3 linked regions of the Homo sapiens genome follow. The protein of the gene in region 1 interacts with the protein of each later gene in a pairwise test. Each region holds a gene or a part of one and is shown in the gene's direction. Other genes may lie near its edges.

Region 1 (5,183 bases):
TGGTAGATTCCAGTGGAGAAAATAGGATGAGCAAAGAGAAAAGTCAGATGAGGGACCAGATGGACCTGAATGGAATTAACATGTGGAGACAATAGAGAAATGATTGAATATTTAGGAGGATCTTTGAAGAGTTCTAAAAGGCAGGCCAATATACCTTCTTGTTAATTTTCCCTTTTGTTTACAGGCATGCATGTAGGGAATACCGGATTCATAAAGAGCTGGATCATCCCAGAATAGTTAAGCTGTATGATTACTTTTCACTGGATACTGACTCGTAAGTGCTGTGCTGTTTTACCTTAACAGTTATATTATTTTCTTGCAATGCTGATTGTTCATGGAATAGAGCTGAACTCTGGGTCCAGGACATACCCTCTGAGGGAACCAAGTAATTTGTGACAAATGATCAAACATAAATTCAGATTTGGATCAGCAAGAAACCTCTAGGCCAAAGGACATGTGCACTTGTGTGCCAGTAAATGTTTAACAGCCAGCTTGGTATGAAGAGAGACAGGGCTAATTTATAGTGTTTGCCAGTTTCCGTGGTGTAGATATTCCTCCTGTGTCTAATTTTGATGTACCACCTGTTTATTTTTGTTTTTTTTTAAACATCTTAATTATAATTCACATACTGTATGATTCACACATGTAAAATATACAGTTTAGTGGTTTGTAGCATATTCATAGATACATGCAACCACCAGAGGCAATTTTAGAATTTTTTCACCATCTCAAACCCCATCATACCTTTTACTACTATTCATCTATTCCACCATTCCATCCCTCTGCCCTAGCCCTAATCTGTCTGTTTTATCTTTATAGATTTCCTATTCTGGACCCTCATATGCATGGAATCATATAGTATGTGGACTTTTATTACTGGCTTCTTTCACTTACCATGGTGTTGTCAAATTTCATCCTTGTAGCCTGTGTCAGTACTTCATTCCTTTTTATGGCAAAATAATATTCCATTGTGTGGATATACCACATTTTGCTTATAACGGTTTGATAACCAGCTCACAAAATTCTTGAAAATTTAAGTCAGCTCTTGGAAACTGGCATGAGTTGGTGCCAGCATGCCACTGACGTGCACTAGTGAGTGTAGACTGTTCAAGAGAGTTTCTGCTCACCCCAGAGACTCTTATGAACATTGACAGACCTTTTTAAAAAGTACTGGCCGTGTGATTTTATCCTAGACTGAGATAAGAAATGTGGCACTAATGAAGACAAGGCTCAGTGCTACATGTTGAAATACAGGCTCATAGGCTTATAGGATGTTAGAATAGGAAGGGATCTCAGAGTCCAGCCTTTTCATTTTATAGGTGGATTTTGAGGACCAGAGAAGTTAAATAACTTGTCTGAGATAGTTATTAATTGTGGGCATTGCTATATTTTGTTACTTGGTATAGGTAACCTCCCGTGCCTCTGGGTTTATCCAGCAGTTTAGCTGGATATATCTCAGCATTTGGAAATGTTTCTCTGTAGAAGTCTGAACTGAATCAGAATATACCCTAGGTCTAGACTTCAGGTTCCCTCAGCCTCCCAGGGTAATTCTAGGAGTTTTGGTCTGTTCTAGCCAACAGTCTCAGATATGGCTGTGCAGACAGCTGCCTTACATTTAGAAATAACCCCAAAGAGGACTATAATTCCCTTTGGAAACATGACCTGGGCCATTCTCTCAGGGATTTCTTCTCATTTGGGTAGCCCTGGCACTGAGCTTAGCCATGTGTGTTTCACGTGGAGTGGAATTTTTTTAAAAAGATCTAGTTAGAAGGCAGGATTGGGAAACAAGGGGCGGGGCATGACATTACTGTTTTGCCTTGAGCAAATTTCTTGAATACTAGGTAGACCCCCCTCTCTGAACTATTAAGTTCAAGAACTATTTCAAAGTTAAATATCAGGCTCAAATTATCTGCTGTTTTGAATTGTATACACACTTTTAACTAATGTGAGAAATTGAGTTGGTTCTATACTATTCTTGAGTTGATTACTTTGTTCTTCCTATTGTATGTATGATGAATTTTCACCAAAAATAAGTCAGACCATGATTTTTAGAACATCTTCTGAGAATTGTTTGGGTATTAAAAGTGAGGCTTTATTTTCTTTTCTTTCTTTTGTTTTGGTTGTTTTCCTTTTTTTTTTCCTGAGATGGAGTCTCACTCTGTTGCCCAGGCTGGAGTTCAGTGGTGCGATCTTGGCTCACTGCAACCTCCACCTCCCAGGTTCAAGCGATTCTCCTACCTCAGCCTCCCATGTAGCTAGGATTACAGATGCACGCCACCATGCCTGGCTAATTTTTGTATTTTTAGTAGAGACAGGGTTTCACCGTGCTGGGCAGGCTGGTCTTGAACTCTTGACCTTGTGATCCGCCCGCCTGGGCCTCCCAAAGTCCTGGGATTACAGGCTTGAGCCACCGCGCCTGGCTGAAAGTGAGGCTTTATTTTCAACTTGCATTTGGGTGAAAGAATCATTCCATTGAGCATGAGTCTATATTTCAGATTTCAGAATCTCAGATCAGAGGAATCTATAAATTTCAGACATTTCTTTTTTTAATTTTATTTTATTTGAGATGGAGTCTTGCTCTGTTGCCCAGGCAGTAGTGCAGTGGCATGATCTTGGCTCACTGCAACCTCCACCTCATGGGTTCAAGCAATTCTCCTGCCTCAGCCTCCCAAGTAGCTGGGATTACAGGCATGCGCCACCATACCTGGCCAATTTTTTGTATTTTTAGTAGAGACAGAGTTTCACTATGTTGGCCAGGCTGGTCTCAAACTCCTGGCCTCAAGTGATCCACCCATCTCTGCCTCCCAAATTGCTGGGATTACAGCAGACATTTGTTTTCAAATAGGGTGTTAGCATGCCCTGCCATGTTTCTTAAGATACATAAGATATTGTTCAGTTTGTGGTGTCCACAGGACCATGTGTGTCCATGTTCAATTGCAGTGCTTTATGAAGGCCTCAAATTGCTCAGTGGCCCATAGCGCTAGACCTGAGTCTGTTTGCTCTCAGTTCTGTTCCTCGCCCTTTCGCTGCTCTGTATCTTTGGGGGGTTAGCCCGTGTAGGCTGTGTTTATCAGGCCCATGTGTCCATTGGTGTTCTGTTGGTTTCAGCCAATGGGAAGGCAGAAATGGGAGGGGGTCTCCACCTCCTCTCCCTCCCCGCAATTCTAGTTTCCCCTGATGACCCTGGGTTCTGGTTTCACCATCTCCTCCCTTCTGGCCTGCTTGCCTGAGGGTGCTAATGGCTTCCTGCTGTAGATGATCTCTAGGGTGCCTCACTGACCAGTTTGTCTTCTCAGCTCTTCCATCATCTGTATGATCAGTTCCCTGAATTAAAGTCTCTCTGTTTTAAATGTTCAGGTGGTTTTTTTTTCCAGGCTAAACTGACTGATACACCCACATTGTCACAACTTAGAAAACTTCAAAACGTATTCATCCCTCAGGAATATTCAAACAGTTCAGGACACCTTACTTCAGAGTATAATGCCTTGGAAGATAGACACGTGACCTGTGATGCCACCAATGGCATATGGTTTTATGTATGGGTCTGTATGACATATTGACATAAGGGAAGGAAAGAGAACCCACATACTTTTGTTAGAACCATAGATACTATACTTTACAAGCTCTTTTACACCTTGTGTTTAAGAGAAATTGTAGTGCAGTATTGTGCCAAGCTGTCAGAAGACGTAGTATGCAGTCAGTTTTTGGGACGTGGGCAAACTCTAGATTCTTACTCATTGCCAGCACTCAGGGTTATATAAAATGTTTGCAGTGCGAATTGTGTACCTAGCCAAAATTGCGCCACTGCACTCCAGCCTAGGCAGCAGAGTGAGACGGAGTCTCAAAAAAAAAAAGAGAGAATTGTGTACTTGATCACATTCTGGTTGTTTAGACGTGGATGTGTGGCATGGGTGTGTAAAGGAGCCCCTTCCAAGAAGATACCTAGCTTAAATACATTATAGTTCTTATCAGTATTCTTATAGTCTAGACTCAAGAAGAGGTCTGCCATGGGTGAACTTGAGCACAACAGATTCCAACATTGAGGGTGTGGAAACTCTTCAAGAGAATAAGCAGTTTCTTACCAGAAACCCCTCAGCTAATACTGAATAAACAATTGAAGAGTATTTTAAGGAACAAAGAAGAAAGGAGTGAGAAGCTGATGACCTGAAGTTTTCACATGGGACTAATTTAGGTAGTGTTAATCTGCTTGCTCTTATTCCATGGTTAAATATTGGTTTATTTGTCTTTAGGTTTTGTACAGTATTAGAATACTGTGAGGGAAATGATCTGGACTTCTACCTGAAACAGCACAAATTAATGTCGGAGAAAGAGGCCCGGTCCATTATCATGCAGATTGTGAATGCTTTAAAGTACTTAAATGAAATAAAACCTCCCATCATACACTATGACCTCAAACCAGGTATGTCTAACTTTTAGGAGACAGTATTAGTGGGTTTTCTTTGGTCTTATAAGTGACTTTTAATTTGATAAAGTTAGAGAATTTCACAGCAGCCAAGAAAGGCTAATAACATCTGACTTTTGATTGCCTGGGTAGGTGTGGGAAAAAAGAGTCCTGGCCAAGCAGCACTGGGTTTAGGAGGGCGTGTTGGATTAAATACTCTGGAGAAACAATACCTTTATCTTTGGAGCCAGGGCAGTTCATGATGTAAGTCTCATTAAGAAAGAACTGTTGCAGCAAGTTCAGTTTTGTTTTTTTCCCATGACTCCTACTACATAACAGTCCCTCTGCTTCAGGTCTCTTTGATAAGAGCCCCCAAATTAATAACTTATTTTTACTTATATGCCTCCCATTTCAATAAATTTCAAGCAGAATTTTTCATCTTTTTGTATGGTTATTATCTAGCTTTGATGTTCATCAGCAAAGAGTACAGGGCAGCTAGAGTCCTTACCTCTATTTTTTATTGTTATCTTCAGCTGTGTTTTAGAAATCTGCATAGTTCTATAGACAACTCTAACAGCTTAGCTTGGGCATTAGGAAGATGGTCCACATTTACCTTCTGGTGTTGCAAAATTGTAAACTTTGCTTTACTCTTCTGGTAGGTGCATATTGCGTCTCATTGACTATTCTCTAATGTTCTAATACAATTCAGATGACTAAAACATTAATTATGATGAAGAAATTTTTTAAAAGATGGCTATTTTGTGAATGAATTTTCCATAAC
Region 2 (5,136 bases), on another chromosome or scaffold:
ACAGGTGTGCCATCATGCCTGACTAATTTTTCTATTTTTTTAGAGACGGAGTCTTGCCATGTTGCCCAGGTTGGTCTCGAACTCCTGGACTCAAGCAATCCTCTCATCTCGGCCTCCCAAAGTGCTGGGATTACAGGTGTAAGCCACCACATCTGGTAACAACTAGCAGTTTTAGCTGACAAAGAAATTCAGCCCTAAATGACCTGGCCTGAAGTTATTTTTGACATGTATCTTCCCCACTGCTGCACAAGGGGCTAAAGGAACTCTCTACCGTGATATCTATGTCAGTGTCTTATGCTAGGATTAAGAGTATTTATATGCACAAGGGCTGTCATTTTTCAAAAACCTTTCTTTCTTCCTCTGTCATTGTTTCCCCTCCAGCTCTCCACCCTGTGCACAAGATACTGTCCTGGTCAAGGAGGGGAGGGAAGGAGTCTGTAAACAGTGCCCGTAAAGAGGCAAGGGCTTGTGAAGTGATGGATGCTGTTGGAACAGAGCAAAGTCTGGCAGGATGGACAGAAAATGTGGGAACCAGGCCTAGGGAGGGTGGGAAGGGTGAGAGGATCAGAATCAAACGCTGGAGAGGGAGGTGAAGAGGCTGGGGCACGATGGAGGTGGGGAAGCCCAAGGATTAGGGGGTAACCCGCACATAGAGGGAAGGAGCCAGGGTTTTCTTGGCCGTATTTTATGTCTGCCTCTCCTTTTATTTTATTTTTTAGTGGCAGACTTCTGAGAAATAAGAAAATAAGGGATGAGTATGGTTCCCATAAGAGTAGGAACTCACAGTACCTTTCATAAGCTTATAATTGATTTTCCCATCTCTGTTTTCCCAAGCCTGACAATTCAGACCTGGAGGCTTTGCGCCTGAGAGGGGGAGGGGAGAGAAACTCTACTAGTGCATCATTCCGGCCACAGCCCAGGCTTATTAGCATTTGAGCAGCAAGAAGGATCTATCCCTAGAAGCTTCCTCCCTGCCTTCTTCCTGGAACTCCCCAAGGAGTGAGGAACTTGGGGAGGGAGGAGATGATATAGTTGAAAGAAGCAATATTAACAGTCAGGGAGTTAAACCCACTACAATCAGCCACATTTCAGAAAAGGTAAACATGCCATTTTTATATAGACTTAGTGCCCACCACCCCCTACCCCCTGCCAAATCCTGGTTATAGACTAACAGTTGCTGTTAGATGCTTATGAAAAATAACCCTGTTTCCCAGGATGAGCCTAACTTGGGCTCACACTAACTTGGGCTGGGTTCATATTGATACATTTCTTCCTTTTTCTCCCCTAATTTTTGTCTGGAGGAAAAAATGTATCTTCGTTCTCTTAATTTTGGGCTAACTTCTACTGCAGGATTTTCTGGCCTGAAGAAAGTTCTTCCATATGAGTGTAGTTGTGAACAAAGCGTAGCTCCAGGAGTTTTGTTCTGCATAGTGGGGAGCGGTGGAAACCACGAGGCTATCGCAGGTGGTGGACTTGGCAGAGAGAGGAGCATATGGGTTTGACAGCGGAAATAGATGTCACCATCTGGTACCCGGGCCCTTCAGATGATTCCATTACCTCCCTGTCCTACCCCATATCTAGGTTGAGTGCGGATGGCATTTGAGATATATTTGCTTAATTTTTTTTTTCTTTTTTAATGACATAGTCCTGGTTTTAAGCAAATGGAGATAAAAGGTGATGTGCTCTGTTAGGGATGTCTGCCAAGGCAAAGCTCACAGAAGACGGGAGAAGTTTCTGAGGATAGACTACCTCTGACATTATTGCTTGGATTGGAGCTGGGCTGTTTCCTGTTAGAAAAGGCAGAATACAAGCCCCAGGGAAGGGGCCAATCGGTGTGCCAGCTACTGGAGCGCAAGGAGGATTCATTCCTGGATGAGAGGTGACTCAGCAGAGAGATTTCCTAGAGACACCTCCTGCCTCCTCCTTGTATGACGTTCAAATCAGACTTCTAGACATACAGCTTGTTAGGTGTTTAGTGATTAACTTTTCTGTGGGACTTGAATGTAAATGCCAGACTATGGCAGTTTGGGATATGGTCAGTTAAGCCAGATATGCTTTGAATAGCTTGTTAGATTTAAACATCTAGAATTTTGATGGCTGTGAACTTTGAGGATCTTACTTGGGATTATGGAATTATAGAGACACAGGGCAAATGAGATAAATGGGGTTCTCTTTTGTAGTTTTGTTGTTGTTTAGTTCATGTGGTCAGGTTATTCAGTGGCATGTCCCATGCAGATTTCTTACATCTGCCATCAGCTATGACATCATGCCTGGATTCCAGTAACAGGATGGCATTTCATCAAATTCTGAAAGTCATCATTATTTGGACTAGAACAACCTATTCCTTAAAATGCCTAGTAAGACGAAATCTGGAAACAACCCCCCAGGTTGGAACTCCTTAACAAAATCAGGGCACCTTTGCTGCAGTTGGCTGCAGTGTCACTTACCTGGAGAAGGCGCCTTGTTCACCCCAGGATGACCTGTCTGTGGGTTAAAAAACGGTGCTGTCCCCTTTGAGTCAGAATGGTGCTGGCCATTCCCCTGTCGTCTTTTCCTGCCAAGTTGGATTCAGTGCTGCATGCTGGATTTCTGGCATGCTGGAGTTAGTGATGGGGCAAAGATATGTTTGGAATTGGATGAAACTCTGGACACCTCTTCAGCTCCACTGTTTAGACAGCAGCTGGCTGGAGTGGCCTCCCAGTCAGTATCATCCATTCTCGAGACTAGAGGCAATCCCACTTCTGCTGATGGTCACCCAGAATTCCATCTCCCCACCTCCTCTCCAGATCCATGAGAAAGAAGAGGAAGAGTTCAATGAGAAGAGTGAAAATGATTCCGGTATCAACGAGGAGCCTCTGCTCACAGCAGATCAGGTATAAGTATCTCTCCAGGTTATCGGGACCTTTTGTTCTTTTGATGGAGAAAAAGTCCAAGAGAACACACTTGCCACATCCATTTAAGGCAGAAGAAAGATATGTGGTCATGTGGTGCCTGTGCTCATGACTCAGAGTATTTTTTGTTTCTTTTTTTTCTTTATATATATATACTTTTGAGACAGAGTCTTGCTCTGTTGCCCAGGCTGGAGTGCAGTGGCGTGATCTTGGCTCATTGCAACCTCTGCCTCCCGGATTCAAGTGACTTTCCTGCCTCAGCCTCCCGAGTAGCTGGGACTACAGGCATGCACCACCATGCCTGGCTAATTCTTATAAAAAATTTTTTGGTAGAGATGTGATTTCACCATGTTGGCCAGGCTGGTCTCAAACTCCTAACCTCAAGTGATCTGCCCACCTCAACCTCCCAAAGTGCTGGGATTATAGGCATGAGCCACTGTGCCTGACCTTTTTTTTTTTTCATTTTGAGACAGGGTCTCACTTTGTCACCCAGGCCAGAGTGCAGTGGCAAAATCAGGGTTCACTATAGCCTCAACCTCCTTGGCTCAAGCGATCCTCCCGCCTCAGGCCCCTAAGTAGCTGGGACTACAGGCATGCATCACTATGCCCAGCTAATTTTCTGTACTTTTAGTGGAGATGAGGTTTCACCATGCTGCCCAGGCTGGTCTCAAACTCCTGGACTCAAGCAGTCCACCCGCCTTGGCCTCCCAAAGTGCTGGGATTACAGGCATGAGCCACGGTGACTGTCCAACTCAGAGTATTTTTGATAAGGGATTTCATCTCTCTTTCTGCCTCAGGTTGCCCACCTGCAGTGAACATGAATGTCATTCTTGACACTTGGGATAGTTGGGGTCAGTCTCTGATAGGAGCCAGAGACAGGCATAGTGTTTAGTAGCTACAATCCTGCTAAGCCTTCTTATTGAAATTCGTTGTACTCGGAGTCAAGACACTCAAACAAGGGTCCCAAATACCTGTTTTCCCAAAAAGAGAAGTGACAGATGAGGCTTTTGTGTGATGGATATTTTCTTACATTTCATAGAACACTCAAAATTTTGGGCCTTCCGAAAGGAGTCTTAGAGCCACTTCGACTTTGTGAAAAAAGATAGAGTGCTTCGCATTCAATTGAGATCATCATAGCTTTAATAATTTATTACTTAGAGAGGATAATGTTCAGTTTCTGGATTCCTTATTTAATGTTTTAGTCAACAAATATTTATGGGTGCTTATTTTGAGCTAAACACTACATAAGTTTCCACAAAGTCTTTCTGCAAAGCTCCACTGGCAGCCTTCGGTGCCAGAAAGTGCTTTTTTAGCAGCAATGGTGCTTTTTCATATCTGTGATAGAAAGGTGGGAATTGAAACACGTGAGGATTAGGAGACTGAAGAGAACCAGATTTTTAAAAATAGGGGCTAATAGCTATTCTTGTGACTTGTAGGAGGATCTACAATTCAATGATATGAACTCAATTATAACTCCTCTTAGAGAAAAGGACATTCAGCCATAAGACCCTGACAGGGACTTGTGTCATTTGGTTGCATTCTGTAAAATGGCTTTCAGTAGTCAAAGACTGGGTATTTCCTAAGTTTGTGAGTAGAGGTGAAAAGGTTTGGGAATAAGAATGGAAATTATTCTAAAGGAGGAGACCCTGAAACCCCTTACCTTTGGTCCAGCCCACTGTGAAGAAACCACCTCAAAGAGTACAATGCTGGCCTCGGGGACTTTAGTCCATCCATGGAGAACAGACAAAGGTGAAGGTTGGGACAAAACTCATCTAAAGACCTGCTTTCAGCAGCAGTCTTCTTTATTTGTAAATAATTAATGTACAAAGTAAGTCACTCTTTTTTTTGTTGTTGTTGTTGAAACAGGATCTGGCTCTATTGCCCAGGCTGGAGTCCAGTGGCCCAGTCTCGGTTCACTGCAACCTCTACCTCTTGGGCTCAAGCCATCCTCCCACCTCAACCTCCCAAGTAACATGGACTACAGACACACGTCACCACAACTGGCTAATTTTTCTGCTTTTTGCAGAGATGGGGTTTCGCCATGTTGCTCAGGCTGGTCTTGAACTCCTGAGCTCAAGTGATCCACCTGCCTCGGCTTCCCAAAGTGCTGGGATTACAGGCATGAGACACCATGCCCAGCTAGTAATTCACTTTTGTTCCTTTTGGCAGATATCTAATTTTCCCTCCACTTCTGGGAGCTGGCTCCTGTCAATAGTCTAGATTAGAGCTGGGGTTCTTATCTATT
Region 3 (5,136 bases), on another chromosome or scaffold:
CTGAGGCGGGCGGATCACCCGAGGTCAGGAGTTCGAGCTCAGCCTGACCAACATGGAGAAACCCCGTCTCTACTAAAAATACAAAACTAGCTGGGCGTGGTGGCACGTGCCTGTAATCCCAACTACTAGGGAGGCTGAGGCAGGAGAATCGCTTGAACCCGGGAGGCGGAGGTTGCAGTGAGCCGAGATTACGCCATTGCACTCCAGCCTGGGCAACAAGAGTGAAACTCCGTCTCAAAAAAAACAAAAAAACAAAAACAAAAAAAATTAGCCGGGCGTGGTGGCATGCATCTGTAGTCCCAGCTAGTCTGGAGGCTGAGGCAGGAGAATCACTTGAACCTGAGAGGCAGAGGTTGCAGTGAGCCGAGATCACGCCACTGCACTCCAGCCGGGGTGACAGAGCGAGACTCCGTCTCAAAAAAAAAAAAAATTAGCTGGGCGTGGTGGCAGGCGCCTGTAGTTCCAGCTACTTGGGAGGCTGAGGCAGGAGAATGGCATGAACCTGGGAGACAGAGCTTGCAGTGAGCCGAGATTGCGCCACTGCACTCCAGCCTGGGCGACAGAGCAAGACTCCGTCTCAAGAAAAAAAAAAAGATTTTGCCTCAGGCCAAACCTGCTTGGCTTTGGATAAGACATGGCAGTCTTCTTTGGTTAGGAATACTTCAAGATAACCACATTGATGAGGTGGGTGAGACTGAGAACTGAACAAGTTTTCTTCCCAGCTATTCCACAGCTTCCCCTCTCTGGGGGTCCCTCCGTGTTTTTTCTTCATAGCTTGCTATGGTTCTCTCTTCCTTCTCTTCCTGGAGAAAGCAGTATGTGTGAAAAGAAAGTAGTGATCAGGTGAAATGAATTCAACATGACATGCAGGCAGGGTTGGAGTAGGAACTGAACTCTTGGTATAAAATAGTAAATGATGGCTGGGCATGGTGGCTCACGCCTGTAATTCCAGCACTTTGGGAGGCCCAGGCGGGCAGATCACGAGGTCAGGAGTTCGAGACCAGCCAGGCCAACATGGTGAAACCCCGTCTCTACTAAAAATACAAAAATTAGCTGGGTGTGGAGGCACGCACCTGTAATCCCAGCTACTTGGGAGGCTGAGGCAGGAGAATCACTTGAGCCCGGGAGGTGGAGGTTGCAGTGAGCCAAGATCTCATCATTGTACTCCAGCCTGGGCAACAAGAGTGAAACTCCATCTCAGAAAAAAAAAAATAGTAAATGATGATAATTGCCTGCATCTATTGAGAGCTTAGTATCTCCCAGGCACTATACTAAATGTCCAACCTACATTGAGTAATTTAATCTTTACGTCAACCTTAGAGGTAGATATCATCTTCAGTTGACAGATAGGGTATAGAGGAGTCAAGTCACCTGCATAAAGTCACAGAGCTAGTAAATAAAACCAGGATCTGAATCCTTTAATCTGGCCCATGATCTGAAACTTTACACTGTACCACATGATAGCTGCCATTTTTTTGAGCCCCTACAATGCGCCAGGCACTATACTAGTACTTTATAGACCTCTCAACAGACATTCCATTTTACAAATGAGGAAACTGAGGTTTAAAAATTCGAAGTAAATTGCCAAGGTCCTCATGGTAGAACTGGGATTTGAACTTAGATCTTTTCAACTTCAAAACATATGTTTTTTACCGTGGTATGCTGACTAGCTATATGCATGAATAAGGACTTCCTTTTAACATCTGAGTTTGGAAATGAGTATTTTCTTAACTTCTAATTCCTTGTTTAAAAATTGTATAAAATGGCTAGGTGCAGTGGCTCATGCCTGTAATCCCAGCACTTTGGGAGGCTGAGGCAGGAGGCTCACCTGAGGTCAGGAGTTTGAGACCAGCCTGACCAACATGGAGAAACCCTGTCTCTACTAAAAATACAAAATTAGCCGGCCGTGGTGGCACATGCCTGTAATCAGAGCTACTGAGGAGGCTGAGGCAGGAGAATCTCTTGAACCCAGGAGGCGGAAGTTGCCATGAGCCAAGATCATGCCATTGCATTCCAGCCTGGGCAACAAGAGGGAAACTCCATCTCAAAAAAAAAAATTGTATGAAATATCCCTAAGTATAGCCAAGGAGATAATTCATTTAAAGAAAACCCCATCAAGGAAAAGTAAGACATATTTGAAACCCTTTCATCTAGCACATAGCAGGCACTCAGCATGTAGAGTCAAATAATCTACTTTTTTCCATCTTTATCATGCAGGAGAAGTCATTAGCTCTCTTACCATTTTTTCCTTTAGCCCTTTAACAAACATTTATTTTTCTTCTTCTTGTTTCTCTCTCTCTTTCTTCTAAGCTACCTGGCCTATCGAAACTTTATGATTGACACTTACCGACTGAACCCCCAAGAGTATCTTACCTCTACCGCCTGCCGCCGAAACCTAGCGGGTGATGTCTGTGCCATCATGAGGTGGGTCTTGTGGCTGAGGGGAAGGGGGTACATGAGGATGCCTGCCTATGGATGTGTTTTGGCAACAGTAGAGATGCCAGCAAGGAACACAGAGGAGCAGACAGAAAAAAGCACCTCTAGAGAAAGGTGAAGTACAGGTTTGGGGAATGAATGACTTGAGGGATTAGCAATGGCATTCTCTGAAGTGTAGAATATAGGACAAAGAAGGAGCATGTCTGTAATTGAAAGATACTGGTTCAGGCCAGGTGTGGTGGCTCATGCCTATAATCCAAACATTTTGGGAGACCAAGGTGGGAGGATTGCTGGAGCCCAGAAGTTCGAGACCAGCCTGGACAAAATGGCAAAACCCCATCTCTAGAGAAAATGCAAAAAAATTAGCTAGGCATGGTGGCACGTGCCTGTGGTCTTAGTGACTCAGGAGGCTGAGGTGGGAGGATCCCCTGAGCCCTGGAGGTGGAGGCTGCAGTGAGCGGTGATCACACCACTGCACTTCAGTCTCTCTTAGGGAAAAAAAGAAAGAAACTGGTTCAGTTTTACTAGCTATTCAGGAAGAAATGTTCGGTAGGTAGGTAGATATAGAGATTGGCCCAGGCTGAAGATGTAGACTTGGGTGTCACTGGCATTTAGGTGATAAATGAACAACTGGAGTAGGTGAGATTTCTTAAGGAGTACAATGAACAGAGGAAAAGGCCGGGGTTGGGTGGGGAGGGGGTTTATGCCCCTTCTACCCCCCACTTTTCCTCTTCCTCGTGCACCTTTCTGGCTATCCGTGTGACCCTGTCTCTGCCTCTCTCTGCACAGGGTCCATGCCTTCCTAGAACAGTGGGGTCTTATTAACTACCAGGTGGATGCTGAGAGTCGACCAACCCCAATGGGGCCTCCGCCTACCTCTCACTTCCATGTCTTGGCTGACACACCATCAGGGCTGGTGCCTCTGCAGCCCAAGACACCTCAGGTAGGGTGAGGTGCTATGGGGATGGGGCGGGTTGGGAAGATTGGGCTTCTTTGAACTTTTCTTTTTCTGGTTTTTAGGGTAATGGTTCAGGAGTGTTTTGAGGCTTCTTCCTTTTCCATGGGATGCAAAGGGTCACGGGAATCAGCCCCATGTGTTTAGCATCCTCTCTCAGCCTTTGTACCTAAGGCTGTAATTGCTGAGGGAGAAGAGATTATCCTTTTACTCAAGGAGTAGACAGGCTAATGTAGGGGAGTCAATAGAGAAAAATGGCTTAAAATTAACTTGCATGAAATTTTTAAACTTTGTCATCTTTGCCACATTTTTTCATTTTTGCCTCATAATTATCATCTTCATTTTTTTTTCCATTTCCACTTCATCCATTACAAAAATTAGGAAGAAGGTTATGTGGCTTGCCCAAGGTCACAGAGTACCAAATCTAGGATTAGAACCTAATTGTCCAGCTCCTAAGAGAACCTATAAAGATAATGTGAATATGTATGGATATCATGCCAACGACATGTCTTATTAATCATGAAGGGAACATGGAACAGTGGCATGAGTGCCCCCAGAGCTTGTGGGCCGCCCAGCATATGGTCTTGAGGCCTCCAGGGCCTTGGCCTGGTCATTTCCTGCCCAGCCTCCATGACGCCAAGCTCTGTCCCCCAGGGCCGCCAGGTTGATGCTGATACCAAGGCTGGGCGAAAGGGCAAAGAGCTGGATGACCTGGTGCCAGAGACGGCTAAGGGCAAGCCAGAGCTGGTAGGTGGGGTGCAGACCCTGCTGGGCTGCTCATTTTCCCCTTTATTGGGGGGCCCCTGCCCGGGAAGAAGAGACATGAGAGCAGAGGAACTACAGCAGTAAGGGAGGAAGTCCCACCCAGGGGTGTCCCTGGCTTTGGGAAAGAAGCTCCTTCTGTCTGTTTTTTCTCTCTGTCAGCCCCTGGCTCCCGGTGGTCACTTGTACTCACCTGTTTCTTTCCCTCCACAAATAGCAGACCTCTGCTTCCCAACAAATGCTCAACTTTCCTGACAAAGGCAAAGAGAAACCAACAGACATGCAAAACTTTGGGCTGCGCACAGACATGTACACAAAAAAGAATGTTCCCTCCAAGGTAGGAGGTGCGGGCCGACTCTAGGGGTAGAGAATGTTCGCTCCTCAGAGGTCACAGGCTCCTTTCTTCTCACCTGCCTGTGTTTCCCCTGCAGAGCAAGGCTGCAGCCAGTGCCACTCGTGAGTGGACAGAACAGGAAACCCTGCTTCTCCTGGAGGTAATTGGGGCAAAGAAAAGAGAGTTTTTCTCTGAAAACAGAAGTGGGCTCCGTGTAGAGGCTCACGCCTGTAATCCCAGCACTTTGGGAGGCCAAGGCAGGAGGATCACTTGAGTCCAGGAGTTCGAGATGAACCTGGGCAACATAGTGAGACTCCGTCTCTACGAAAAATTTTAAAAATTAGCCAGGTGTGGTGGCACACACCTGTGGTCCCAGCTACTCAGGAGGCTAAGTGGGAGGATTGCTTGAGCCTAGGAGGTCAAGGCTCCAGTGAGCTTCAGGACCAGCTCCAGGCTGGGGATTTGGGCCATTTCATTAACTTCATATCCTTTCTTAGTGCTACTTCAAGATCCCCCTTGGACCTAGCAGAGTACACAAATACCAGAACATAGAGAACTTTGAAACCAGCTGCCCTTAGTAGGATGGGGGGAGTCAGCCTTCGAGAAAAGTGGCTAAGTAAGCGGAGTTATGTCTCCACCACTACCACCA

The links.
Region 2: the proteins of TLK2 (region 1) and FEZ1 interact in a two-hybrid assay, tested with the Homo sapiens proteins (one study listed by BioGRID).
Region 3: the proteins of TLK2 (region 1) and SMARCC2 interact in binary tests that used the Homo sapiens proteins (3 or more experiments, as listed by UniProt).

What each region holds. Positions count from the first base shown.
Region 1 is NC_000017.11:62,596,401-62,601,583, forward strand, and holds part of TLK2 (serine/threonine-protein kinase tousled-like 2), read left to right. Parts: intron 1-184; coding exon 185-274; intron 275-4,250; coding exon 4,251-4,420; intron 4,421-5,183. UniProt on the Homo sapiens protein: Serine/threonine-protein kinase involved in the process of chromatin assembly and probably also DNA replication, transcription, repair, and chromosome segregation. Phosphorylates the chromatin assembly factors ASF1A and ASF1B.
Region 2 is NC_000011.10:125,461,221-125,466,356, reverse strand, and holds part of FEZ1 (fasciculation and elongation protein zeta-1), read left to right. Parts: intron 1-2,786; coding exon 2,787-2,873; intron 2,874-5,136. UniProt on the Homo sapiens protein: May be involved in axonal outgrowth as component of the network of molecules that regulate cellular morphology and axon guidance machinery.
Region 3 is NC_000012.12:56,171,939-56,177,074, reverse strand, and holds part of SMARCC2 (SWI/SNF complex subunit SMARCC2), read left to right. Parts: intron 1-2,310; coding exon 2,311-2,424; intron 2,425-3,225; coding exon 3,226-3,379; intron 3,380-4,045; coding exon 4,046-4,138; intron 4,139-4,370; coding exon 4,371-4,490; intron 4,491-4,584; coding exon 4,585-4,647; intron 4,648-5,136. UniProt on the Homo sapiens protein: Involved in transcriptional activation and repression of select genes by chromatin remodeling (alteration of DNA-nucleosome topology).